Homo sapiens: one gene and its partners. The protein of the gene in region 7 interacts with the protein of the main gene of each other region in a pairwise test. Each region holds a gene or a part of one and is shown on either strand. Other genes may lie near its edges.

What was found.
Region 1: the proteins of SLC10A1 (region 7) and TMBIM1 interact in binary tests that used the Homo sapiens proteins (3 or more experiments, as listed by UniProt).
Region 2: the proteins of SLC10A1 (region 7) and GAST interact in binary tests that used the Homo sapiens proteins (3 or more experiments, as listed by UniProt).
Region 3: the proteins of SLC10A1 (region 7) and SLC25A46 interact in binary tests that used the Homo sapiens proteins (3 or more experiments, as listed by UniProt).
Region 4: the proteins of SLC10A1 (region 7) and SLC35E4 interact in binary tests that used the Homo sapiens proteins (3 or more experiments, as listed by UniProt).
Region 5: the proteins of SLC10A1 (region 7) and FDFT1 interact in binary tests that used the Homo sapiens proteins (3 or more experiments, as listed by UniProt).
Region 6: the proteins of SLC10A1 (region 7) and TVP23B interact in binary tests that used the Homo sapiens proteins (3 or more experiments, as listed by UniProt).

What each region holds. Positions count from the first base shown.
Region 1 is NC_000002.12:218,282,152-218,286,134, forward strand, and holds part of TMBIM1 (protein lifeguard 3), read right to left. Parts: intron 3,788-3,983; exon of another isoform or gene 3,612-3,787; intron 1,986-3,611; exon of another isoform or gene 1,888-1,985; intron 31-1,887; 5' UTR 1-30. UniProt on the Homo sapiens protein: Negatively regulates aortic matrix metalloproteinase-9 (MMP9) production and may play a protective role in vascular remodeling.
Region 2 is NC_000017.11:41,711,060-41,715,479, reverse strand, and holds the start of GAST (gastrin preproprotein), read right to left. Parts: upstream 3,150-4,420; 5' UTR 3,093-3,149; intron 49-3,092; 5' UTR 44-48; coding exon 1-43. UniProt on the Homo sapiens protein: Gastrin stimulates the stomach mucosa to produce and secrete hydrochloric acid and the pancreas to secrete its digestive enzymes. It also stimulates smooth muscle contraction and increases blood circulation and water secretion in the stomach and intestine.
Region 3 is NC_000005.10:110,762,640-110,765,773, reverse strand, and holds the end of SLC25A46 (mitochondrial outer membrane protein SLC25A46), read right to left. Parts: 3' UTR 617-3,134; downstream 1-616. UniProt on the Homo sapiens protein: Transmembrane protein of the mitochondrial outer membrane that controls mitochondrial organization.
Region 4 is NC_000022.11:30,641,943-30,645,925, reverse strand, and holds part of SLC35E4 (solute carrier family 35 member E4), read right to left. Parts: intron 1-3,983. UniProt on the Homo sapiens protein: Putative transporter.
Region 5 is NC_000008.11:11,819,355-11,823,337, reverse strand, and holds part of FDFT1 (squalene synthase), read right to left. Parts: intron 1,589-3,983; coding exon 1,460-1,588; intron 1-1,459. UniProt on the Homo sapiens protein: Catalyzes the condensation of 2 farnesyl pyrophosphate (FPP) moieties to form squalene. Proceeds in two distinct steps.
Region 6 is NC_000017.11:18,784,034-18,788,016, reverse strand, and holds part of TVP23B (Golgi apparatus membrane protein TVP23 homolog B), read right to left. Parts: intron 1-3,983.
Region 7 is NC_000014.9:69,794,281-69,798,921, forward strand, and holds the start of SLC10A1 (hepatic sodium/bile acid cotransporter), read right to left. Parts: upstream 2,962-4,641; 5' UTR 2,876-2,961; coding exon 2,520-2,875; intron 1-2,519. UniProt on the Homo sapiens protein: As a major transporter of conjugated bile salts from plasma into the hepatocyte, it plays a key role in the enterohepatic circulation of bile salts necessary for the solubilization and absorption of dietary fat and fat-soluble vitamins.

The DNA of each region.
Region 1 (3,983 bases), on a different chromosome or scaffold from region 7:
GGGCTGAGGGGGAACCCCAGCTGCTGGGACCTGAAATGGGAGAGGAGAAAAGCAATCGTGAATGCCCAGGCCCAGCTCACTCAGCCTCATGGGCCCACTTCCAGCCTTGTCCAGGCTGCCTCCGTGGAGAGGAACACCACCTATTTTCTCCTTAGAGGGCAGCGTGTGATTTGCTGTCCACAGGCCACCTCCCCACCAACTGGGCTCCTGTCCCTCCTGCCTTTGCGCCTGCTTCTTGTCCACAGGCCTCTCACTGTGCAGCTCCCCAGCCATAGGAAAGCAGGAGGAAGGATTCGCTGAGGAGAGAGGGAACCAGGGAGCCTGGGAACTCCCTGTTGTGGTTTAAGAAAACCTTCCAGTTTTGGTGGCTTGATGGCAGAACCAGCGAAGAAGCCAGATGGGCCAGGCACAGCCTCCTGGCGACTCACAGGGCCAGCTGGGACCCTCTGAAAGGGTCAGCTCTGCCCCTGCCACAGCTGACGGGGATGCCAGGCCTGGAAGCCAGAGCTGGGTTGGAGCCAAGGCTCAAAGTGGAGAGCCGGGGGAAGAAGTGGAGGAAAACAAGCTAGCCCCAGTGCCAGAGCTGCCAGGCCCCGAGGAGGAAGGGATCCAGGGACCCGGGGGCCAGTGGCAGGCTGAGTCAGGAAGCCTGAGAAGCAGGAGTGGGTGGTACAGGGGCTGGGGGCAGGGAGGCTGTGCCAAAGGGCCAGCTTGAGACAGGACTTTCTGGTTCCTTCAAATAACAGCGGTGGCGTGTCAGAAAGGCATGCGGCAGCCTGCGACCACAGCTGCTCTCTGGCCTTGCTAGGGAAGAGAGAGTGAGTGCACGGCCCCTCGCCCTCCCCCTTACCCCCACCCTGGAGGGGGAGACAGATGTTCTGAATCCCAGGCTCTCTGTGAGTTCTACCTGTCTTCCAGGTGCAGTGCTAGCAGGGAGGACAAAGAGCTGAGGAGTCAGGCCACAAGGTCAAGGGAATGCCTTCCCTGCAGCAGGAAGAGCCCCATAGCCAGGGGAGGGCCAAGAAACCAGGGGGAGGGAACCCCAAACTGGAGTTGGAAGGGACCTCAGGGCCATAAGCCCCAAATGCTCACTTCAGATGAGAGAATGCAGGCCCTGAACAGGGAAGTGATTCCCCAGAACCCCAGAACTCGCAGGTCAGTGGCATAACCAGGACGGAGGCCTTCCAGATCCTGGGTCCAGGTCCTTCATGTTATGCGGTGCTCTTATGCCTCCTCTGCCAGTTACTGTCCTCTGGGCCTGGTGGTCCCCTCTGAGGTAGCAGAGATGCAGGCTTAGGAGGAGCTAAGGAAGCCCCTAGAGGGCCCCTGCATCCCCAGTAAGGACAAGCCCTGGCAGTCTGGGCTCGACAGGGCCACCACCTCTTCTAGAGCATCTACAGGGGGCTTTAGGATCCCCAAGGAGGACACCCCCAGATGCAGGTCAGCAGACACCAGAGGCTCTCAGAGGCTCTGCTGGAAGCAAGAGAGACCAGCGTCTCTTTTTAGGGCACATTGCATAGTTCGGGGATCAAATAAAGGACTGTCTTATCTCTTCTCTTTTATGACAACTGGGATAATTCAGAGAGGGGAAGGTGGCAGGGAGGGTTGAGGAGGGGGAATTGAATAAAAGTCCAGGTCTCTAAGTGGGTTATTTTGAGGAAAGCTGTTCTTCATCTCCCTAGAGGGGCTGGGATAGAACCAGGGCAAGAATGTCAGGTCAGAAATACAAAGCTGGCAGGGTGCGGTAACTCACGCCTGTAATCCCAGCACTTTAGAAGACTGAAGTGGGCAGATCATGAGGTCAGGAGTTCGAGACCAGCCTGGCCAACATAGTGAAAACCTGCTCTACTAAAAATGCAAAAATTAGCCAGGCATGGTGGCATGTACCTGTAGTCCCAGTTACTCAGGAGGCCGAGGCAGGAGAATCACTTGAACCTGGGAGGCAGAGGTTGTGGTGAGCTGAGATCGCGCCACCGTACTCCAGCCTGGGCAACAGAGTGAGACTCCATCTCAAAAGAAAAAAAAAAAAAAGCACTGGCCGGAAAGGCTCTGTGGGCAGAAACCCCAACCGTGATGTCACCATGACGTGTCCCAGCACCTCCTCAGGGTGCACCTCTGTGAAATAAGGTGGGGGCGACACGACCTCTAAGCCCACTGCCCCCTCTAACAACAGACTATGATTCTGGGAACTCGGCTCTGCAGGGCCTGACCTTTGCTCGGCCAGAGAGCTGCCCCTGCTCCCTCCTCTGAGCCAAGCAGGGCAAACAGCTAACTTTCCAGACCAAGGGACTGTGGCAGCCACCGGGTGAAAGGTGCCTCAGAGAGAAGGGTCAGCCTCGGATGGGCCACGGGGACTCCAAGGTTCTGGTGCAGCTCAGCGGGTGCTGACTCAGAGCTTCACTCCTGCCTCTCTTGCCCCTCCCTTTCAGGCTTTTGGTTTCAGAAGCATGTGCTAGTAGGCCTGCCTGCACTGCACACAGCAGTTTCCAGGCCAGTCCTTCGGGTACCTCAGCCACCAGCCCATCCACACCAGAAACTACCATGACCATTTCAACTCACTATGCCTCAGTTTCTTCACCTGGAAAATGGGTCTCACACTAGTAATAGTACCCTCCACGGGGTTGCTATAAAAATTAAGTGAGAAAATACACATAGAAGGCTGGGCACAGTGGCTCACGCCTGTAATCTCAACACTTTGAGAGGCCGAGGCAGGTGGATCACCTGAGATCAGGAGTTCGAGACCAGCCTGGCCAAATGGTGAAACCCCGTCTCTACTAAAAATATAAAAATTAGCTGGGCATGGCAGCAGGCGCCTAGAATCCCAGTTACTCGGGAGGCTGAGGCAGGAGAATCGATTCAACCTGGGAGGCGGAGATTCCAGTGAGCCACAATCGTGCCACTGCACTCCAGCCTGGGTGACAGAGTGAGACTTTGTCTCGAAGAAAATAAAAAAGAAAATACACATAAAGTGCTTAGAATGAAACCCGACCCCTGATCAATGGGGATAAAGGTTGGTTATTTTCATTAAATCCTTACAACAGTCCAGCAAGTTAATACTGTTATTATTATTCCCATTTACAAATGAAGAGATTGAGGCACAGAAGAATTAAATCACTTGGCCAAGATAACCTAGCTAGAGTGTGATGAAGTCAAAATGAGCCCCAAGACTGACTCCCAAGCCCCTGCTCTTAATCCCTAACCTGAAAACACCCTGTCTATCCAACCTTCTCATCACTTCTGCCATAGCTTCCATCTAAAACCCTCTCATGGGTTTTAGCCTCAACAGGAGGCTGACACAAGTGGAAGCCAAACTACTCAGGCCCTCCACACCACCACAGGGCTCACAGCCTGGCCAACGGCCCCAGGAGAAGAGGGTGGCCCAGGCTTGGAGATACATAAAGGTCAGAGCTGGAAAGAAACTCACCCAAGGACAGCCAACCCCTCACTTTACCAACTAGACAGCCACAGCACAGGAACCTGTCCTTGGTTACCGAGCTGGTCCTGGGGACAGGACGAGATCCTAGCTGTCTACATAGAGAGACCTGGGCACAGGAGAGGAAACCCCAGCATTAACGCTAGCCAGGGGAGTTGCTAAACTCAGCCACACTCACCTCTGAGCAGTGCCAAGAACACTGTCAGACTGGCAAGAGCCTCCGGGGACCAGGGCTGCCGGGTTTGGCAGCTTTAGAGCCTGCTCTTGGGCTTCTGCCCAGCCTCCATGAGGGCCCTGGCCACTTCCACATCAGCAAGGCCTCCACTAGGGATGAGGTTTGGGGCTGGCATCTGCCTAGGTAGCAGCAAAGGGGGAAAGGGTCAGTGTTTACTTTCGTAGCTATGTCTAAGGGTGGAGGCTAGAGAAGAATGGAGGGTAAGGGAAGGAGGGAGAAGGGGAGAGAGATCACGAGACTGACACAGAGTGAGGACTAGAAATCAGATCTGGGTTCTGCCAGCAGCTACTAGAGGGGCTCACAGTCTGCAGGGAC
Region 2 (4,420 bases), on a different chromosome or scaffold from region 7:
GAGCCAGTGCAAAGATCAGCACATACACACACAGTCGCTGCATCTCGTCTGCAAAGGGGAGAAGGGACTAGCTTAAGGGTGAGGCTGTCCCCACAGAGGCCCAGAGGCAGGGGACTGAACCATGTGGCTCCAGGCCTCTACCTGCTGATGAGTGTGCAATTCTTTCTTTTTTTTTTTTTTAGACAGAGTTTCACTCTTGTTGCCCAGGCTGGAGTGCAGTGGTGGGATCTCGGCTCACTATAACCTCCGCCTCCCGGGTTCAAGTGATTCTCCTGCCTCAGCCTCCAGAATATCTGTGACTATAGGCACGTGCCACCATGCCTGGCTAATTTTTGTAATTTTTAGTAGAGATGGGGTTTCACCATGTTGGCCAGGCTGGTCTCGAACTCCTGACCTCAGGTGATCCACCCGCCTCGGCCTCCCAAATGCTGGGATTACAGGCATGAGCCACCGCACCCGGGTGAGTCTGCAATTCTGTGTGGAGTTGTGGACTATTTCTTCAGATCAGTTCTCCAGTTTCTGCCAGTTCCACACCAGCCCCGAAGTCTTGTGTTTTTTCTCTTTACCTACCCCGATTACAGCCACTGCTTCTATTGGAGAAAGTCAAATCCTAGGGCAATGGTTTCCCTAGGTTCTGTTCTGCAGAATTTGAGGCCATGTTAGTGGTTCTGTAGCTGTTTAAGTAATGTAATTTATTTATTTATTGAGACAGGGTCTCACTCTGTCGCCCAGGCTGCAGTGCAGTAGTGCAATCACTGCTCACTGCAGCCTCTACCTCCTGGGCTCAGGTGATCCTCCCACCTCAGCCTCCAGAAGAGCTGGGACTACAGGCTTGCACCACCACGTCCAGCTAATTTTTTTTGTATTTTTTGTAGAAACAGGGTTTCACCATGTTGCCCAAGCTAGTCTTGAACTCTTGGGCTCAAGCAATCCTCCCGCCTCAGCCTCCCAAAGTGCTGCGATTACAGATGTGAGCCACTGTGCTCAGCCCAAGACTTGTTATTTAAAGTGAACTTTTTAGGCCAGGCATGGTAATCCCAGCACTTTGGGAGGCTGAGGAGGATGGATCCCTTGAGCCCACAAGTTTGAGACCAGCCTGGGCAACATACTGAAACCCCATCTCTACAAAAAATACAAAAATTAGCCAGGCATGGTGGCATGCACCTGTATTCCCAGCTACTTGGGAGGCCGAGGTGGGAGGATCGCTTGAACCGGGGAGGTGGAGGTTGCAGTGAGCCGAGATTGCACCACTGCTCTCCAGCCTGGGCGACAGAGTGAGACCCTGTCTCAAAAAAACAAAAACAAAAAGTGAAACTTTTAAATAGTAATACCAAAGGAACATGGACATCCAGCTGTGTTACAGACCGCATGTTATCACTTTGGAGACTGCAGCACATTCAATGCTTGGCCAGCTCACACTGATTTTTGTGCAGCCCTGAGAGGAAAGGTTCTCCTGTCATTTTTGCTTAACTGAGGAATATCCTGTGATTATAATGAAGCAGTTAAGAAAAAATTAAGCTGTCACCATTAGCAATTATGTATCAGGGTGAATCAAGTTTGGGGAAAACATAATACAGAACTAAACTGGAATCTCAAACAAACATAAAATTCAAATGCTCATCTATTCCCTGGACTCACTATTTTTGTATGCTTTTGGTCTCACTATTCTGATTGGCTTTATCATAAGAAAATGATAAAAATTTTCTCTTGTCAGAATACATTTGTATTAATAAAATACTGTACTGCTTTTAAGTTTTTCTTTTTTTCTTTTCTTTTTGTGAGACAGAATCTTGCTCTGTCTCCCAGGCTGGAATGCAGTGGCTGGCGTGATCCTGACTCGCTGCAGCCTCGACCTCTTGGGCTCAAGAGATCCTCCCACCTCAGCCTCCTGAGTAGTTGGGACTACAAGTGTGCACTACTATGCCCAGCTAATTTTTTTGTTTTTATTTTTAGTAGAGATGAGGTCTCACTATGTTGCCCAGGCTGGTCTGGAACTCCTGAGCTCAAGCAATCTGCTTGCTTCAGCCTCCCAAAGTGTTGTGATCACAGGCATGAGCCACGGTGCCTGGCCATTAAGTTTTTCATAATCAGGTTTTCTGTTAGGTTTTCTTTGGAAGAAAAGAATTCTGCTGCTGAAGAAATGTTTGAAAAATCAGTGATCTGGAGCTGTATTGTCAGATGCTAACCACATGTGTTGTTCAGTGCTATAGCCACCAGCCACATGTGGCTCTTTACATTTAAATTAATTAAATTAAAAAATTATGGTCAGGTGCAGTGGCTCACGCCTGTAATCCCAGCACTTTGGGAGGCTGAGGGGGTTGGATCACTTGAGGTCAGGAGTTTGTGACCAGCCTGGCCAACATGGTGAAACTCTGTCTCTACCAAAAATATGAAAAATTAGCTGGGTGTTGTGGCAGGCGCCTGTAATCCCGGCTACTCGGGAGGCTGAGTCAGGAGAATTGCTTGAACCTGGGAGGCAGAGGTTGCATGTCACTGCACTCCAGCCTGGGTGACACGGCGAGACTCTATATAAAAAAACAAACAACAACAACAACAAAAACTTCCTTACACTAACCCCATTTCAAGCGCACACGTGGCTAGTGGCTACCATATTGAACAGTGCAGATGAAGACCATTTCCTGCATCATAGGACGTTCTTTTGGATGGCACTGGTCTAGGAAAGGGCTTGAAGTGGGATCCAGGAGCTGTGGATTCCTATCCCAGCCTTGCCTAATAATCCCTGTGACTTTGGGCAAGTCACATCTTGCCTCTGGGCCTCAGTTTTCTTGTCTGAGAGAAAGGAGAAGAACCCCAGTCCTCCTCACCTCCCAGGGCTGGGAAGAGTGTGAAGGGATAGGCTAAGGGCAGGGCCCCGGCTGCGGCAGAAGGGCAGGTGGAAGGCAAGGTTGGGAATACCAGGGTAGGTACTGGAGCCAAGACCTAGTTCCATCCTGGGATAAAGAAAGGGTCCCAGCTCTGGAGACCCCAAGGGGTGAGCCCCAGACTCTGGCCAGTGGCCTGGTACCTTGATGGGGGAGAGGACCTGTCAACCCACTTCCTAGCCTCTCCCCTCTCCTCCTGGGTTTTCTCACCTGCAGAGCTGGGAGGTGTGTGGTGCCACGGCTGGGCCTGGTGCCTCTCAGGTCTCTGCTCTGCTTGATGCTCCAGGCCTGCCTTATAAAGCCCTCAAGGTCCCTCCCAACTGTCCCCCCACCCCGCCCCTACCCTGCCATATGAGTCCAGGCGAGAGGAATGGGGTGGGGCACAGGTACAGCCCATCACCCTGCCCCGCCCTTTCATTTAGTGTCAGTCAGTCATCCAGGATGTGGGGGAAGGATAGGGGAGTTGACCTTCATGGTGAGGGGCTGGAGCGGGGTGGCGGCAGCTCTCCAGCTGTACCTGAGGGGCAGGAACCAAGCTCCCTGGGTCAGGAGCAATGCTTCCCACCATATCCTGGGGGTCAGAGGCCTGGCACTTATCTCTCGAACTACATAGGGACCTTTGTGGGTGGTGGTAGGTGAGGGAGTGAACCCGATGGGCTTAGATTCAGGGAAAGTGGATTTCGCCATCCACTGATGTTTGGCAAGCGTGTGAATGTGGGGTGATGTATTGATTCCCCGTCCCCTCCACTGGACTCTGCAAACATAACGTGTTACCAGGAGCAATGGGTTGTGGGCTGATGGCCCTGTTCTCTCCTTCTAGTGGCTCACATCCTGGTCACCTCTGAAGTCCTTTCACCCTCCCCCTACCATGGAACACCCTTGGTGCCTTCTTCTCCTTAGGCCCTCTGTGCTGGGCTGGGTTTGGCTTGTAGCTGCCCCGTGTCTTCTAGGTCAGCTGCCCATGCACCACCACTTGCAAACCCCCTATGCAGAACCAATTCCTGGAGGGTCCTGCCTTTGAAGCCTCCTTCATTTTGCTTTCAAGGGGAGCTAGTAATCTGCATAACAACTTTTTTTTTTTTTTGAGACAAAGTCTAGTTCTGTCACCAGGCTGGAGTGCAGGAGTGCAGTGGTGTGATCTCGGCTCACTGGAACCTCCGCCTCCTGGGTTCAAGCGATTCTTCTGCCTCAACCTCCCTAGTAGCTGGGATTACAGGCGCACGCCCCCACGCCTGGCTAATTTTTTGTATTTTTAGTAGAGATGGGGTTTCATCGTGTTGGGCGGGCTGGTCTCGAACTCCTGACCTCATGATCGGCCCAGCTTAGTCTGCCAAAGTTCTGGGATTACAGACGTGAGCCACCATGCCCAGCCAACAACTTTTCAGTATCAAAATATACCTTCAAATGGTTAGCAAACAGACTAAAGCATTTGCCAAAGATGGACCAGAAAACAAAATGGTACCTTGTTGACTTATTTGATAAACTGCTGCCTCCACATGGTTTGACCAGATGTAATGAGCCGTAGGCTGTTTTTTACT
Region 3 (3,134 bases), on a different chromosome or scaffold from region 7:
TTTTAAAGAAATTACTTATTTCCAGCATTATAAATACATCGTTTTACTCCCTTCCAGCAAGTTATGTCTGTTCTATTCCTTCTAGAACCAAGGGTCAGGTCCCACACTGGGCACCCAAGCTGCCATTTTTAAGACTGCCATGCCACTGAACCACAGAGAAGACAGGAGCCAAGGTAAGTCAAAGCCACAAAGCTTTCCTAACAATAAGTTGCCTTTTTCTTGATTTAACATTCACATAGTTGCTGTAAACTTTTGACTGTTTTCCAGAGTCTGACAAAGTTGGTTCTGACAGTTTCTGGTTGTTTTCTTCTCTTTCCATGGAGGGATGGGAGTCTGGAGCTGCCTATTTGTCATTTTTCTGTTGTTACTCTCCTAGTTGTGAAATGCAGGACAAATCACCTCCTCTCTGTATCTATTTTATTCTTAATCAAACAGCACAACTCCAAAAATGTCATAGGGATGTGGTGAGGAGGCTATAGAGATTTTAAAAAATAGTGTGCAAAAAAGTTTAACTTCACATATTTTGTTGATCTTCCTTTCTACCTAAAAAAATATACTTCATCTTTAACCACCAGCCTGAATAGTTCTCTCACATCAGTAGGAGAAAAACAGTGGCTTTATTTCGACATTTTATTGAACTTTTCATATTACACAATTTACCCAAAACATTTAAAGTAACAGTAAGACAAACTTAAAAAAAAAAAAGTCATACAGACAAAACATCTCTAGGTGAGGCAATATGTAAATTTCATTGTCAAATCATGATTTTGTTACTCTGCTATACAACTTGGTACCATATCAATGATACTAAATGACTCAAGAGTAAGACATTATGCATTCCGTTTATATGAGAAAAAGAGATTATTTACAACTACTTGAAAGAGAAACAGAAATGCCAACAACAGTATCATTCAAATTCTAGTGCAATGTCAATTGTTACCAAGAGATCTTATTTGCTTATATAAATTTTGCAAATAATTCAAACCTGGCTATCTTATTAGAAGCTGACAAAGTATGCTTTTCTGTTGCAAAAGATCAGTGGACAAAAATCCTCCACAACCTCAGCTGATAAAACAAATTTAAGCAGCATTTTTTTTTTCCATTTCCTGAACAGATGTACTAATACTTAGGTAGAAACACTAAAGCATTTGTACTCAATCAATAAAGTGAATGCTTTGTGCAGTTTTAACAAAGCTGCTGCTAAAAAGACAGTTGTGAGTGGTCAGGTATATCTGCAATAGTAAGCAAGTTCTTACCTTTCCAGTTCTGTATGCTTCTGAAAACACCAGCTAAGGTATTAAATACCCATTTTCAAGTGACCTTGTTTTTACTATTTCATATTTATGACATCTAGTGCTGAGATTCTGGGGGCTTTAATAGATAACCTTATTAACCCAGATAATTTTTTTTGGAGCCCATAAAATAAAATTGAGAATGGCATTTCGGGAAGGTCTACATATATGTATTTAGTAAGTTAATTCGTAAGTTCACTTTACATAGTAAATTAATATTTACCAGTTTTTAATTGCTTTCAGTGTACTTGACTCAAATTAAGAAACCCTACAATGTAAGGCAAGTGTATCACAAGCTCCATGGCCAAAATTTGGCTTATATAAGAGGACCAGTGGGCCTGTGGAACATTTAATAGAATCTTTTCCATAATGCTATTAGTTCTACTGAATTAAAAAATATTATTTTGAGCTGTTATTATCTTAAGAAGTATAGCCCATGGATATTTGATTTGGCACCCATGTTAAAGAAAAATAACAATTTTTAAAAGGGAACGAGCGTATCTTACAGTTATCTCACTCATTCTTTTCAAAATTCAGTGCAACATATTTGGCTAGCTTAAATTTAAGTGCGTGACCGTTCAAGATTTTGTTTCAACTAATTTGGAGTGGTTGTAAAAAATTATTCATATTTTACTTTCTACATTTCAATTTTAATGTTAATTTGTATTCTCTTTCTCCAAAAAGGAAAACAAGATCAACCTTATTTGTGTATGGTTCAGCCTATCAGTCTTATAATTATTCTACAATAAAATGAATTTATGTAACTAACTATTTTCATGCTAACTTCCAAAAAATATCCTGAAATATTTAATTTTTAGCTAAACAAAGGATCCTACAGATTTTCACTAGTAAATACTTGATTCTATTCAGATTCTTTTCTAGAAATTTTTCAAACTTGAAATTTTCTGGTTTACTCTTATCTGAAACTATCCTAATTGAAAACAATTTAAATGCTATTGGTTGGACAAAGTAAACCTTAATCTAAAATAGTCACCATAAAATATAAAATGTGATCAGTGGTGTTTAATTTTATTTTCCCCCTTTTGGTGGAATTTAAAAATGGAAAATGTAGGTGTTTCAGTAACTACACACACACACACACGAGAGATTTGCTACTTATTACTGTTTTTACACTTTTTGGATATCACTTTTTTGTTCCAACACTACTATTTGCAAAAAGTAACCATTTCTGTGACATTTAGCAAGTAAAATGAATTTCTATTCGTATGCATTCTTGGTTGGACAATATCAGTGCAAAGTCACTGTGCTTCAGAGCGCTAAATGGTTCATGATACAACTGTGATTATTCACGTGAAGACATGAAACTTTAAAATGTCTAATGATAGAGCAGACACATATCATTTTACTACACAAAGTGCTTAACCCACCAAATTACATTTAGGAATAGACAAAATGTTTTTATTAAACTGATTAGTAATTTTTTTGCTTATTATATGTTGAAATGTACAAATGTACTTTTTCCCCTCACCCATAAAATACAAGGGCACATTTCCTTTAAGGTTTGGATTTTTCTTCAGTATTCATCTAAAGAAGTTTAAATAAAAGGTGATAAGAATAATTGCTTTTCCCTCCACGTACATCTATTTTGGAAAACAAAATTTAAAGCAAAACCTGAAAGAAAATAAAAACGGAAGCCATTATTTAGTGGTGACTATATACTAGACAAGAGGCACAAATTCCCAGATGAATTTTAATTTTGTTTCCTCTCAGACAAGCCATTCAGAAATAAAAGGGAAATGAGGTTCATTTAAGTACACAATTTGTAAATGTGGAAACAGTAGTAATTGTCATGATTATTTTATATTCTCTCTTAACAGTGGC
Region 4 (3,983 bases), on a different chromosome or scaffold from region 7:
GATCTTGAGCTCAGGAGGTGGAGGTTGCAGTGAGCCAAAATTGCACCACTGCACTCCAGCCTGGGCAACAGAGCGAGACCCTGTCTTAAAAAAAAAAAAAAAAAAATCGGTCAGGTACAGTGGCTTATGCCTGTAATCCCAGCACTTTGAGAGGCTGAGGCAGGAGGATCACTTGAGCCCAGAGGAAGGCTACAGTGAGCTATGATGATGCTACTACACTCCACCTCAATGACCAGAGCAAGACCCTGTCTCTAAAAAATAAAAATAAATCTTCAGGGGCTGCCCTGGCCCTGAAGGTCCTAGGTTCTTTTTTTTTTTTTTTTTTTTTTTGGAGACAGAGTCTTGCTCTGTTGCCCAGGCTGGAATGCAGTGGAATGATCTCGGCTTGCTGCAACTTCTGCCTCCCAGGTTCAAGTGATTCTCCTGCCTCAGTCTCCCAAGTAGCTGGGATCACAGGCATGCGCCACCACAACTGGCTAATTTTTGTATTTTTAGTAGAGACGGGGTTTCGCCATGTTGGCCAGGCTGGTCTCGAACTCCTGACCTCAGGTGATCCTCCCACCTCGGCCTCCCAAAGTGCTGGGATTACAGGCGTTGAGCCAGTGCACCCAGCCCAGGGTTCTTCACCCAGCTTCGAAGACTCTGCATCAACTGGCCCCAACCACCTTTCCCGCCTCAGCCCCTATCACTCCCACACTGCAGTTCCAGCCACCATGAAAGGGCAGGCCAGCAGAGGGTCCCAGCTCTGCCACTTACTAGCCACATGGGGGCCTTTGCATTAAAAAAGAAGAGTTTATAAAAGAAAATAATAAATTGGGTCAAAAGTGTGACCCATTCATTGCCTCATTCACTTATGACCACTGGAGTGACAAGGGGACAAAAGGTCATTGTGGGATCTTGGCTCTCACTCACTGTTTATAACTGATAATCAGCATCTTTTTTTTTTCCTGCTAATACTGTGGCTTGTCAAGATGAATCCAGGACTAAGAGGAAACCTTTTCACTTTGTAAGGCAGGAGGGGATCTTGCTGCTTTGCCTATGTGTGACTGTGTATCTGTGTGTACCTACGTGTACACATGCCACCACCAGCCAATTCACAAAGGGGTGCCCAGGCGAAATGACATTATTATTATTATTTGAGACAGGGTCTGGTTCTCTTGCCCAGGCGAAATGACATTATTATTATTATTTGAGACAGGGTCTGGTTCTCTTGCCCAGGCTGGAGTGTAGTGGTACGATGTCAGTTTACTGCCTTCCGAGCTCAAGCGATCCTCCCTTCTCAGCCTCCCAAGTAGCTGGGGCTACAGGCATGCACCATCACCCCTGAAAATTTTTGTATTTTTTGTAGAGATGGGGTTTCGTCATCTGGTTCACCCAGGCTGGTCTCAAACTCCTAGACTCAAGCAATCTGCTCAGCTTGGCCTCCCAAAGTGCTGGGATTACAGGTGTGAGCCATTGCGCCTGGCTGAAATGACATTATTTGCATGAGGGCAATGATGGCATGGGGCCTTTGCCAAGTTAGTGGAGAGAGATGAGTAGTCGACACAGGTCCCCTCCCAGGCCTCTGTGAGCCTCTATGCATTTTCTGACACACACTTTCCAAAAAGCCACAGAGATGCTTACTCATAGGCTATGCTTAGAATAGGAAATTTTATTTCTCTCTCAATTTCATTCCGATGTTTTAGCTTTGTTCTCTAGGCAACAAACAGTCCCTCTGGCTCAAGCGTTTCTAGAAATGAACAGATAATCAGAATGCCTCCTGCTCGCAGGCTCGAAAGTTAACAGTGTTATGAGCTACCTGTGGCTTGCACATTAAACGTCCCATCACAAGAAGGCGGTTGGGTTTTCAGGTGAACTTCACCTTTGGTAAATTTCACCCTCTGCAAGGCAGCCAGGCAGGAAGGTCCTAAACTTCCCACCCATCTCCTCACACCTATTGTACATCCCACCCAATCCTCCACCTCCCCTCCCTGCAGCCCAGGGAAAGGGCAGCCATTCGCTGTCAGAGGCGGTGACTGGCTTCTACCTGGGGACCCCAAAATGTCAGCCTGTTTGTCCTGCCTCATTGCCACCTCTCCTTCTATTGGAACATGCCCAAGTTTCTGCCACATGCAGACAACAGCTGACCCTTCTCTAAACCCTGTCTGCTTGCTATTGGCTTGGCCCTTTTGCTCTTTCACGGGCTGTGTGATACTGTCTCCCTCTCTCCACGCCTCAGTCTCCTTAAGTCGTGTGGCTCGGGTAGCAACAGCCCCCTCACATGTGAGGTGCTGAACACAGGGCCTGATGCCCTGTGTGATGTCCTTGATGCCGGCTCACCCCGGCAGCTGGCATGATCCCCACACCCTGCTCCTGCTGGCTGACACCCTGTGCCCTGGCACGGCCTGTTTCCCATTCCCAGATCACCCTTTCCTCCTCCTTCAGTATGAAGAGCTGGGCATGGTGTGGGCACCTAGGGAGGCCCCAACAAATGTTTGCTCTCATGGTTACATTATTGTCATCATCATTGCATGTCTCTTCCCCTAGATAGCCTTCTCAGCGCTCCCCAGGAAGAAGCAACCGCTCCCCAACACGTGTGACCACTTTGACTCTAGAACTTCTTTTCTGCCATCATGATCTCTATATCTGAGTGCATCTCCCCCATCAGCCTGAGAGCTCAGAGGGGTTGAGTCCGCCTGCTCTGTGATGCGGACGGGCGGGGGAGTCCAGCTGAGAGCAAGCTCAGCAGGCTGGCGCCCCACTTCCCACCCTTTCTGTGGGTAGGAGGATGGCATAACCCCTCTCCTTGTGCAGGCTCCCTGGGCCTACAACTGGCCCAAGAAGGAGGGAAGTCGCTGGCCCTGCCAACAGCTGCCTGGGCTCTCCTCTTTCTGGATACTTTTTTTTTTTTTTTTTTGAGACGGAGTCTCACTCTGTCGCCCAGGCTGGAGTGTAGTAGCGCTATCTGGGCTCACTGCAAGCTCCGCCTCCCGGGTTCACGCCATTCTCCTGCCTCAGCCTCCCGACTAGCTGGGACTACAGGTGCCCACCACCACACCTGGCTATTTTTTTGTATTTTTTAGTAGAGACGGGGTTTCACTGTGTTAGCCAGGATGGTCTCAATCTCCTGACCTCATGATCCACCCACCTTGGCCTCCCAAAGTGCTGGGATTACAGGTGTGAACCACCGTGCCTGGCCTTTTTTTTTTTTTTTTTTGAGATGTTGCCCAGGCTAGAGTGCAATGGTGTGATATCTCGGCTCACTGCAACCTCCGCCTCCCTGGTTCAAGAGATTCTCCTACCTCAGCCTCCCGAGTAGCTGGGATGACAGGCATGCACCAGCATGCCCAGCTAATTTTTTTTGTATTTTTAGTAGAGACGGGGATTCACCATGCTGGCCAGGCTGGTCTCGAACTCCTGACCTCAAGTGAGCTGCCTGCCTTGGCTTCCCAAAGTGCTGGGATTACAGGCGTGAGCCACCATGCCCAGCCTTCTTTCTGGATACTTGCCCTCTGCTCCCACAAACTCTGCTCTCAGGAATGGAGCTGGCATCAGCCACGTACACTCACGTCTGAATCTGGCCCTGGTGCCTCTCCTGGAGCCTCCTGCAGTAGAAACCTTTTGTTCAAAACCTATCTCAGGCTGGGTGTGGTGGCTCATGCCCGTAATCCCAGCACTTTAGGCCGAGGTGGGTAAATCACTTGAGTCTAGGAGTTGGAGACCAGCCTGGGCAACATGATGAAACCCCATTTCTACAAAAAATACAAAAATTAGCTGGGCATGGAGGCACGCCTATAGTCCTAGCTACTCGGGAGGCTGAGGTGGGAGGATTGCCCGAGCCTGGGAAATTGAGGCCGCAGTGAGCCACTGCACTCCAGCCTGGATGACAGAGCAAGACCCTCTCATAAACAAACAAACAAACAAGCAAAAAAAGCCTATCTCAGGCCCTGGCTCAAGTCTGTTCCTCCCCATCTCTGCAGGGCTCCTATCTCTGTTAGTGGGGC
Region 5 (3,983 bases), on a different chromosome or scaffold from region 7:
TAGTTCTTTTGGTAGAAATACTCCTAAAATGGAGACTTATATAATTCATCTTCCCCCAAAGTAGAAGAAAAAAAATAACTCCTTGAAATAATTGGCTGGTCATGCCTGTAATCCCAACATTTGAGAGGCCAGAGTGGGAGGACTGTTTGATGCCAGGAGTTTGAGACTAGCCTGGGCAACATGGCAAAACCCTCTCTCTACAAAAAATGTACAAAAATGAGCCTGGTATGGTGTCATGCACTGTAGTTACAGCTACTCGGTAGGCTGAGGTGGGAGGATCACCTGAGCCCAGGAGGTTGAGGCTGCGGGGAGCCGTGATCACACCACTACACACCAGCCTGGATAACAGCAAGACCCTGTCTCAAAAAAAATTTTTTTTAATTCAATTTTATCTGATCAAAACTTCTATTCAACAACCTAAAATTAAGTTTCCTGAATAAATCTGCACAACAGAAAATGAGTTACTATCATAACCAGTGCTGGTTCTTGGCCAGAAGTTTTAACTTCAACTTTATTTTCTTTCAGATGGTGTCTTGCTCTGTCACCCACGTTGGAGTGCAGTGGCACAATCATGGCTCACTGCAACCTTCAACTCTTGGGCTCAAGCAATCCTCCCACACCTCAGCCTCCAGAGTAGCTGGGACCACAGGCACATGCCACCAATTCCCTGCTCATTTTTTAATTTTTTGAAAGACGGGGTCTCGCTATGTTGCTTAGGCTTGTGTCTAACTCCTGGGCTCAAATGATCCTCCCACCTCAGCCTCCCAAAGTGCTGAGATTACAGGTAAACCATAGTACCCGGCTAACTTCACCTTAAATGCAGAAATTGATTTCTAGCAGTCATTGTATGCTGTTAACTTAGGAAGCACAAATCAGCAGTTCCAAAGATAACTGCTGTCAAGTTTTGAGGTTTGAAAAATTAAGAGGCCCAAGACCTTGGACCTACACTAACGTAGTGACCATGTAGCAGCATCTTTTCGGAGATCCTAATTTAAGCACAGTTAAAGGTATGAAATACATCAACACTTTAGATGTCTGAAATGTCTCTGCCTGCTAAATCTGACTGGCTTTAAAATAAATAAATAAAATGTCTTTACTTCCACAGAAGTGATGAGTAAGTCTCACAAACACCATTCCTATGAAAAATAGGCAAGACTCCTAACCCTACCTTATGTTTTGATGTGTAGTTTTAATCTTCATGGTCAATTACATCCCTTTGTCTAGATAAGCACTTCTCTCCAGTACCCTACTCCTAGCCTGGCTGATATCCTACATAGCTGCTGGTTTGGAATTAACTCTGGAATAAACTGTTTATGATGAGACATTCAACCTAAACAGATGAATTGTAAAACCAGAGGGGCTGAAAATACTGGACAACTTTTCTTGTTCTGAGCTTCACTATGAGGACTGCCAGCTCTGTCTAATACATCACACACAGACACTGTTTTATGAGACTAACCTTGTCCCACTCCTGTTCAGAGGTCACATGCTTATCCAAAAACTCTGCCATCCCAATGCCCATTCTCCGGCAAATGTCGGCAATCACTGTTTGGTATTTCTCAGCCAGATTTCTAAACTCAAGGGAGATCTGAAATGGAAACCGTAAAAACACAGAAATCATGAAATATGTACAGACATGGCACCAAAGATCACAAGGCAAACAATGGCGGAATTAATCATGACTGCAATGGTTCATCTATAAGCCTAATTTAGGTCACACATTTTTTTTGTTTTTGTTTTTGTTTTTGAGATGGAGTCTCGCAATGTTGCCCAGGCTGGAGTGCAATGGCACGATCTCAGCTCACTGCAAACTCCGCCTCCCAGGTTCAAATGATTCTCCTGCCTCAGCCTCTCCAGGAGCTGGCATTACAGGCATGCACCACCACGCCCAGCTAATTTTTATATTTTTAGTAGAAGTGGGGTTTCACCATGTTGGCCAAGCTGGTCTCAAATTCCTGACCTCATGATCCACTAGCCCTGGCCTCCCAAACTGCTGGGATTACAGGCATAAGCCACTGAGCCCGGCCTCATGTTTCTTATTATTTCATAAATTTCATAAATATTAAAATAGAATGGTCTAAAAATGCTAATGTTTCTAGATTCAAAAGAAGATTCAAAGTCTCACTACACATTTCATCTTTCCAATGTATAATGAGATGCTTCAACATAAAGCTGGGTTTAAGTTTTTGGGAGAACAGCTTGTTTAGAGAAACCTCATTATGAGAAAGATTCATTTGTGCAAACATGGATCAAGCACTTCCTATGTAACAAGTATCATTCTAGGCACTGGGGATATACATCAGGGCAACAAACAGAAACTCAGACCCAGAGTTGCTTCCAAGATGTCCCAGTAGGAACAGCTCTGGTCTACAGCTCCCAGCAAGATCGATGCAGAAGATGGGTGATTTCTGCATTTCCAACTGAGGTACCTGGTTCATCTCACTGGCACTGGTTGGACAGTGGGTGCAGCCCATGGAGGGTGAGCCAAAGCAGGGCAGGACGTCACCTCATCCAGGAAGTGCAAGGGGTCAGGGGATTTCCCTTTCCTAGCCAAGGAAAGGCGTGAGTGACTGTACCTGGAGGAACAGTATACTCTGCCCAAATACTGTGCTTTTCCCAGTCTTCGCAACTGGCAGAGCAGGTGATTGCCTCCAGTGCCTGGCTCGGGGGGTCCCATGCCCATGGAACCTTGCTTGCTGCTAGCCAAGCAGTCTGAGATCAAGCTGGGATGCTGGAGCTTGGTGAGGGGAAGCGCCTCCCCGCCATTGCTGAGGCTTCAGTACGCACTTCTATGCTCACAGTGTAAACAAAGCAGCAAGGAAGCTTGAACTGGGTGGAGCCCACCGCAGCTCAGCAAGGCCTACTGCCTCTCTAGATTGCATCTCTGGGGGCAGGGCATATCTAAACAAAAGGCAGCAGACGGCTTCTGCAGATTTAAACATCCCTGCCTGACAGCTCTGAAGAGAGCAGTGGTTCTCCCAGCTCGGCATTTGAACTCCAGTAACGGACAGACTGCCTCCTCAAGTGGGTCCCTGAGCCCCATGTAGCCTGACTGGGAGGAGACACCTCCCAGTAGGGGCCGACAGACACCTCATATAGGTGGGTGTCCTTCTTGGACGAAGCTTCCAGAGGAAGGATCAGGCCGCGATATTTGCTGTTCTGCAGCCTCCACTGGTGATACCCAGGTAAACAGGGTCTAGAGTGGACCTCCAGCAACTCCAACAGACCTGCAGCTGACGGGCCTCTGTTAGAAGGAAAACTAACAAACAAAGGAATAGGATCAATATCAACAAAAAGGACACCCACACCAAAACCCATCTGTACGTCACCAAAATCAAAGACCAAAGGTAGATAAAACCACAAAGATGGGGAGAAACCACAGCAGAAAGGCTGAAAATTCCAAAAACAGAACGCCTCTTCTCCTCCAAAGGAACGTAACTCCTCACCAGCAAAGGAACAAAACTGGATGGACAATGAGTTTAACGAGTTGACAGAAGTAGGCTTCAGAAGGTTGGTAATAACAAACTTCTCCAAGCTAAAGCAGCACGTTCTGACCGATCGCAAGGAAACTTAAAACCTTGAGAAAAGGTTGGACAAATGGCTAACTAGAATAACCAGTGTAGAGAAGAGCTTAAATGACCTGATGGAGCTGAAAACCAAAGTACAAGAATTTCACAAAGCATAAACAAGCTTCAATAGCCGATTCGATCAAGCAGAAGAAAGGATATCAGTGATCGAAGATCAAATTAATGAAATAAAGCAAGAAGACAAGATTAGAGAAAAAAGAATGAAAAGAAATGAACAAAGGCTTCAATAAATATGCGACTATGTGAAAAGACCAATGCTATGATTGTTGTACCTGAAAGTGATAGACAGAATGGAACCAAGTTACAAAACACTCTTCAGTATATTATCCAGGAGAACTTCCCCAACCTAGCAAGGCAGGTCAACATTCAAATTCAGGAAATACAGAGAACACCACA
Region 6 (3,983 bases), on a different chromosome or scaffold from region 7:
CACTGCAATTCCCCTCAACTACAACAAACCTGATCCTGTTCCTCTCCTAGTGGCACTCACCAGCCTCCCTGCCTTTATCCCTCTCTATTCCAGCCTCTCCTTTACATTACCCAGAGCAATCCTCCCAATATGGAAATCACACCATGTCACTCTACTGCTCAAATTTTTCAATGGCATCCCTACAAGTATAGGATAAAATTTAACTCCTTCACATAAAGCATAGAAGATCACAGAATCTAATGCCCCCTACTTGCTTCTGACACTGTCTTCATTGAGCACTGTTGAGCACTGAAGCAATACTGTTACTACATGGTCTCTAAGAACACTACAATCTCTCTCCCATCTCCTGCCTTTCACATGTTGTCTCAGAAAACTCTTCCCTTCCTCATGCCCTGCTCACCACCAAATACCAAATCATCCTTCAAGTTTTTTAGCTCAAATACTGAAATAGCTGAAAACCTGTCTCTGAAATCCCCATGTTCCCACAGCACTTGGACGAATCTCCATTTGAACAATCATCTCAGAGTATTCTTATTGCACATCTACCCGCTCCTACCTCCATATAGATTAAGCTGCTGGAGGACCTAGAAGACAAGGTTTTTTTTTTTTTTTTTGAGACAGAGTCTTGCTCTGTCGCCCAGGCTGGAGTACAGTGGTATGGTCTCAGCTTACTGCAACCTCCACCTCCTGGGTTCAAGCTAGATTCTAGTGCCTCAGCCTCCTGAGTAACTGGGATTACAGGAGTGTGTCTCGGCTAATTAGCCTGGCTAATTTTTGTATTTTTAGTAGAGACAGAGTCTCACCACGTTGGCCAGGCTGGTTTCAAACTCCTGACCTCAAGGGATCCGCCCACCTCACCCTCCCATAGTGCTGGGATTATAGGTGTGAGCCACCACGCCCAACCAAGACTGTCTTTGCATTGTAGTAAATCCTAGTGTCTAGCAGAGCATTCAGCCAAGTGGTACAGTATTTGTTGAAGGCATGAGTAAATAAGCAAAGGAGACGATAATATACAGCTGACTGTGATCAGGGCTGAGAAATCTAAGTGCAAATGGGAGCCAGGGAAGGAAGCAAATCATTCCTACTACAGGGCACTGGAGAAGCTTTCTGGAGGAGAGTTTGTCAGCTGGGCCCTGACAGTCCGCGTAGGCCTCCCTAGACTAGGTATATTTTGAAAGGCACAGGTGGGAATACAGGAAGTTTGTCTAAGAAATGGTCAAGTAGCTCATGCAGTAAGTGATGGATGCGAGAAGCTCCTACTGAGCTAAGGCTGAAAAGGTAAAATGGATTCAGATCTATGAGACTAGTGGTTCTCAACCCTGGCTACAATTAGAATGCTTTTTCTTAAAAAACAAACAAACAAACAAAAAAAGGCTGATACTTGGGTCCAGCCCTCAGTGGTTCAGATATAATTGCTTTGAGGTGTGATCATAACGTACAGCAAGATTGAGATCCACCGTATGATGTTATGAATAAAAAGCTGAGGCCTTCTGCTCTCGATCCCAACAGTCTAATCGCCATCCAGCGGCCAGGGAGACTTTTTCACATCAAATCCTATCATTCCCCTACTGAAACCTCTCAGCACTATGACTGAAAAACAGACTCCCTATCATGACCTATCATGATCTGGTCCCTGCCAATCTCTAAGACCTTATCTCAGGCCACTCACTCTTCATTAACTGTGGTAGGCTGAATACCTCCTCACCCCTCCCAAAAATGTTTAGGTTCTAATCTCTGGAACCTGTGAATATGTAAATTTACTTGGCAAAAAGAATTTCACAGATGAGATTAAGTTAAGGATCTTGAGGTCAAGAGATCATCCTGGATTACCCAGGCTGGTCAGATGACGTGATCACAATGGTCCTTACAAGGGAAACAAAGGAGGGTCAGTGAGAGAAGGTGATGAAACAAGCAAAGTAGAGATGAGAGACAGAGATTTGAAGAGGCTGTGCTCATGGCATTAAGATGGGGAAGGGATCCCAGGTGTTTAGAAGCTGCATCAGGCAAGGAAACTGATTCTCCAGAACCCCTACCCACACCTTGATGTTTAACCCCTTGAGCCTCATTCTGGACTTCTGACCACCAGAACTTTACAACAGTACATATGACTTCACTGCCGCAGTAGCAACAGGAAATTTATACAGTACCTAAGCTCCTGCCCAGACTGGCCATTTTTTTTTTTTGACACAGGGTCTGGCTCTCGCCCAGGCTGGAGTGCAGTGGAGCAATCAGGGGTCACTACTGCAGGTCCTACATCTCAGCCTCCTGAGTACTGCAAGCCACCATATCTAATATTTTAATTTCTTGCAGAAATAGGGTCTCGCTATGTTGCCCAGGCTAGTCTCAAACTCCCGGGCTCAAGCAATTCTCCTGCCTTAGCCTCCCAAAGTGCTACGATTAGAGGCATGAGCCACCATGCCCAGGCTGGCCTTCTTTTCAGTTCCTTAAACATGCCAAACTTGGGCCCCGTCAGGTTCTTTTGCACTTATGGTTCATATTACCTAGAACACTATTCTCTTACCCTGCTCTTTGAAAGACTCATTTCTTCTCATTTATTCAGTAAATACTGAGTGCCTACCAAGTGCCAGGTACTGCTGTAAGTGGTACAGATTTAAAAAAAAAAAAAAAAAAGACAAATAGCTCTGCACTCCTGGAGTTACATTTACTAAGATGGGGAAGACCACGGACACAAAAGATTTCGGGGCAAAATCAGCAGTTTGATTTTGGACATTTTAAGATGCTAAATGACATTTTAAGATGCTAAAACCAAAAAGCGTTGAAAGGGAGATCCATTGGAGTGTTTTAAGTGTAAGACTGCATGTTCTGACTCACCTGTTAGAAAGAGAATTCTGGCTACTGTAGTAAAAATCTGGAGGGGGAGGGGAGAAGAAGGAGGGACAAAAGCACAACGCTAGGAGACTGGTTAGGAAACTACTTTAATCACGAGGCCAAGAAGTAATGGCTTGGTCTAAGATGGATGCAGTGGAGGTGATGAAAAATAGATTCCAAGTACATTTTAAGGGAGAGCTGACAGGATTTGCTGATGGACTGACTGGGGAGGTGGAGGAAGGGTAAATAAAAGGAATCAAGGAAGATTCCAAAGTTTTTGTCCTGAACAACTAAAAAGATAAAGATGGCTAAGACAGACTCCTAGCATTCCAATAATTAGAGATCACAAAGATAAGAAGGAATAGGCTGTGGGGACTGAAAAAGAAGTACCAAGGAACATAAGGTGAGCCAGGAGGGGGTAGTGTCCTGGAAACCAAACAAAGTGCCTCCAGGAGGAGGATCCATCATCTGTGTCAAATGCTGCTCATAAGTAAGATGAAAACCAAAGAGAGACCACTGTATTTTTTTTCTTTTTTTTGAGACGGAGTCTCGCTCTGTCGCCAGGCTGGAGTGCAATGGCGTGATCTTGGCTCACTGCAACCTCCACCTCCCGGGTTCAAGCGACTCCCCTGCGTCAGCCTCAGCCTCCCGAGTAGCTGAGACCACAGGCACATGCCACCACCCCCAGGTAATTTTTGTATTTTTAGTAGAGACGGGGTTTCACCATGTTGGCCAGGATGGTCTCCATCTCTTGACCTCATGATCCACCCATCCTGGCCTCCCAAAGTGCTGGGATTACAGCCATGAGCCCTGCACCCAGCCATGACCACTGTATTTTTAACAGGTCATCAGGGAACTCAGTAAGAGCAGTTCCAGTATGGTTGGGAGAGGGGAAGAGAGACTGACTAGAATGAATACAAGAGAGACTGGAAGAATTAAAAGACAAGCATATATGATACAAGTCTTTAAAGGAAAAAGAATGGAGTGACCAGTGAAAGAGCATGTGGTGTCAAGTTTGTTTTGTTTGTTTGTTTGTTTGTTTTGAGACGGAGTCTGGCTCTGTCGCCCAGGCTGGAGTGCAGTGGCGCGATCTCGGCTCACTGCAAGCTCCGCCTCCCAGGTTTATGCCATTCTCCTGCCTCAGCTTCCCGAGT
Region 7 (4,641 bases):
GTGGGAAGCTCTGGCTCCCACACAATACTTGCTGCTGAGACACGGGTGTCTGCCCATGCCTTTGAGGCTGTCTGGCCATTTTGTTTGTGGAAATGCTGACCTGGAAGATATTTCAGTAAAAGCACAGGTTCCGGAGCCACCCAGACCTGGAGCCAATGTATTGACCTCTCTAAGATTCAGTTTCCTTACCTCTAAATGCTACTTGTTACATGCTGTCCCCCAGGGTGCTGTAGGAGGATCACATATACTTATCCAGGTAAGGTGTTTAGCACTGTGCCTGGCTGTTTCTTATAATCGTTGTCATTATTATAATGCATGTAACAAGTTGTCCCAAATTGGAATGGGATTTGAAGTCTGGCAGCACATGAAGGTAGATGACCAGATTCCCATTCCGACAGTGGGATCTGAGACATGGTTTAATGTGCATGGGAGGGTTGTTTGTTGGGAAGGAGTTTTATGGCAGAAGGTGGCTGTCCCAGCAGAGCTTATCTCTTGTGGGGGTCTAGGTAAAAATGACAGTCATCAGGGGTCTGGACAAGGAGGTTGAGCAGGAGAGCATGAGGGGTCATGTTCTTGAGTCACCAGAGGCTCTGCCTGGGTGGGGCCTAGAGCCACAGCAATGTAGGCATTGTGGCAGAGGCCTCAATAGTGGCCACTGGCGATGGGGCTGGGACATCTGGCCACTCACACTTAAAAGCACAGTTGCCTTCCACGTCCCCTGCTCTGCTTCTTCCACAGAAACACAAAGCCCTCAGAGTACCCCTTCGCAGGCCCCTGACTTCTGCATCCCTCATACACCAAAATTCAGATATACTCTAGGATTCTTGGGACACACAGGCTGCCATGAGCCTTGTCCAGAAGCCAGATCCAAGACCAAGGGCTTGCTTTGTAGCAGAGAGGATGTGGATTAGACAGAGGAAAGCATTTTCTCACAGTGAGGTAGTTGAACATTGAAATACCTTTCCGTGGGTGATGGCACAAGCCAAATGCCCTCTTTGTGCCTCTCTTCCCATTGACTACTAAAGTGAGGGCTGAATCATATGGAAAAAGAGCCCAGAGCTTCTCAGATGGCAGATCCTGTTAAACCCCAACTCTCATTCACTCTCACTTTTTTATTTCCTTTTTTTTTTTTTTTTTGAGAGAGAGACAGGGTCTCACTCTGTTGCCCAGGCTGGAGTGCAGTGGTGTGATCATGACTCACTGTAGCCTTGAACTCGTAGGCTCAAAGATCCTCTCATCTCAGCCTCCCAAGTAGCTGGGACTACAGGCATGTGCCACTATGCCTGGCTAATTAAATATATATGTATATATTTGTAGACACAGGGTTTTGCTATGTTGCCCAGGTTGGTCTTAAACTCCTGGTCTCAAGTGATCTTCCTGCCTTGGCCTCCCAAAGTGCTGGGATTATAGGTGTGAGCCACCGTGCCCAGCCATTCTCACTTTTTTCATTTAAAAAATCTGTCCCAGTGTCATTTTGCATCACTAGGAGGGGCTTCTTGACTGGGTTAGTTTTCCTAGGAAAGTTTGGCTAGGAGTAGGGTGCTGACAGACACAAGCAGATGGACTTTCTGGGTTCTGCTGCTATACCTGGCATTGAATAGCGTCTCCACGGAGGACTAAACCAGGGGGGACTGGCTTGAGACTGAGGTTTCACTGAAAGCAAGAGCTTCTGCTAGTGAGTTTTCTTTAGCTTCAGCACAGGCTGCTGGAGCTGGAGCAGGTCTGAAGTAGCTCCTCTGGCAGATGTTCAAGACTAGAGTCTCCCCAGTTTGGAAGGATGAGCATCAACCAGCCCCTGTGTGCTGCGTCTCCAGGAGCGAGCCCTTGCTGATTTCTGCTTATAATGCTTTGGGCAGGGGGTTAGGGGGTGCTGCTGTCTTCCCCTTATCAGGGTGGCTGAGATGGGGCTGGCCTATCTGGAGTGGGTGCTGGGAAACTCTAGGATCTCCCTGGTTGTGCCTTTGCATGGAAATGTCATTGCATCTGATGGGGAATGAGGGACTTTAAAGAGAAAACATCTTAGATGACCAGGTAATTGGGAGGACCTTTTGGAAATTCTTGCCCGCTTTGCAGGAATTTGAGGTGCTCATTTGGTTCCAAGTCACCTTGATCTCCCTGATGATGTTTGGAACGAATCACACTACCTTTTAAATCTCTGGGCTCAAAGCAGGCAACTTGTCCACTGTTGTAGGTGGATGCAGTTCTCCAGAGGTTCCTTTGGCTTTAATCAGTGCTCCTTTAAGACAATCCTTGAGACACCTCTGGAAGCAAGGAGATCACCACGAGCTTCCTGGACCAGTATGGTCCCTTTGGCTTGGTGCCTAAACCAGACGTACCCCAACTCCTGCCCCCATCCCAGCATAAGCTCTTGGCAATAAATGCCAGACTTCCCCTGCCCTAGCCTCCACCCAGCCTGCATTCACTCCTTTTCCTGGCTTTAGCCCAGCTCTTCCCCTCAATTGTGACATATCTAATGTAGCTCCTGTCCCAGGCTGTTCCCTCCTCACCCCCAGGCCTACCTGAGGTTCATGTCCCCCTTCATGGCCAGACTGAAGACATTGGACAGGTTCCCTCCAGGTGAGCAGCCACAGACCAAGATGGCCAGTGCCTCAATGTTCTTCAGCCGGAAGACCTTGCCCAGCACAAAGGCCGTGAGGGGCATGATGCCATACTGTGCCACCAGGGCGATGGCCAGCCCTTTAGGCTTCCATAAGTGAGCCTTGATCTTGCTGAACTCCATGGTGCAGCCCAGCGAGAGCATGATGAAGAACAACATGAACACCAGGATGACGCTCAGTGCCAGGTCTGTGGGGCGCTTGCCAAAGTTGGGTGGCAGGGTGAAGTTGAATGGGGCAGACGCGTTGTGGGCCTCCATCCTCCTGTGAGGCAGTGGAAGACCACTCCTTGTTCTCCGGCTGACTCCGTTTCTTGTGCAGTTCTTGCTGGATGCCTTCTTTAATCACCTCTCAGGACAGAGAGTTTCTGGACAAAAGCTCTGGGCAAATAGAAGGGTTATGCAACTATCTGAGCTATTTCTCTGGCTGTCGCCCCAAAGAGGAACAGCCCAGAACCTTATCTGCCTGCCCTAGCTCTCCCAAGCTCCCTGACCTCTGCTGGATTCCTGGGTGCTACTTGTACTCCTCCCTTGTCACTTTGCTGCTTCTGGGCTTATTTCTCCCCTTTGCCCTCCACTGAGTGTGCCTCATGGGCATTCATTCAGTTACTGGGGACCTGCCCAGGGCCCACCTGAATCTAGGTCCAGCCCATCTCCTTCCCTGCAGCTCCTTTTCCCAGCTCCGCTCTTGATTCCTTAGTTTCTTGGTTGGGGGAAGGTGCCCTCCCCATGTCCAGTGGGTTATCATTTGTCCCCAGAACCCATGAGAGTGAAAGGAGCTGGGTGTTGCCTTTGGTTCCTAGATACAGGTAGCATAGTCCAAGGGGGTGTGGGACAGGCAATGTCACTGGCCTCCAGGAGGGGATGTGTCCATGACCCTTTTCCTGGGAGCTGAGAGGATGCCAGTATCCTCCCTGCCTGTTCTGGGGAAATGTTTGTTTTATCCCCAAACTGGGACTGTATGAGTCCCAGGGAGGAATACTGGTGGTGGCTGCTCCACACTACCTGGAATGCTTACCATCAGAGGGAATAACCAGCTGGGATGGTGGGTGGGCTCTCAGGAAGCTTGGAGGCTCTTTCCCCGAAAAGCAACCTGAGAGAACCCTGGCTGTGGAGATTGCTTTGTGCCCGAGGAGGCCCATTGCTTGCAAAACTTGCTGAGAAGGAAGCAGGAATGCAGTCTTTTCTTCCTGACTTCCTGATTGCTTTACTTTTGCACTGGGCCTGTGTGTTTCAGGCTGGGAGCCAGGCTTGGGGCGTGGAGCAGAAGCAGAGAGAGGTGGGCATGCCAGGGGCGGGGCCACCTAGTGTGTGAGGTTATCCTAGGCCTTGCTCTTTCCATCTATCCCCACTGCAGAGGTGGGACAAGGGAGGAGGGGTCTCCTTCAGAAACACAATTGCTTCTTGGCTTGGTTGGAACCTAGGAGGCCTGGGTGGGGTCTGAAACAGGTGATTAGGCTTTGTATGTAGGACTCCAGAGGGCAGAATAGGGACCAGGGTGTGAACCACTGTTGGGTGGAGGTGGGGACAGATTTTGGCTTGGTGCAAGGAACCACCTGAAAATGAGAGCTCTCCAAGAATGGCCTTGAGGCCTCTGGAATCCTGCTTGGATAAGGGTTGGATGGCAGGATCCATACATATTGCATCATATCCATGAAAAGGCTGCTCCCTGGGCTTGCGCGGTGGGCAGCCTGCGGGGCCGTATACTGTGGCCCTGGGTGACATGAACTTGAAGCCTCTTTTCCTTTGAGAGTCTCTGCTAATGATTTCCTGGTGCTTGAGTTGGGCTGGTATCAAAGGGAGGGCAGGCAGAGGACTGGGCACTGGATGTGATGCCTGGACTGAGCGTTCCCACAGGGTAGGGTTGAGTCTCAGAGGAGGCTGCTTCCTCTCCCTGGGGCTAATCAGAAGGGAACAGAGTTGCTAGGGGAGAATTATTGATCACTAACTGAGTACCAGGCACCATGGGAGGCAAAAAAAATAAAAATAAATAAATAAAAAAAACTATATAATTCATGTTCCTGTTC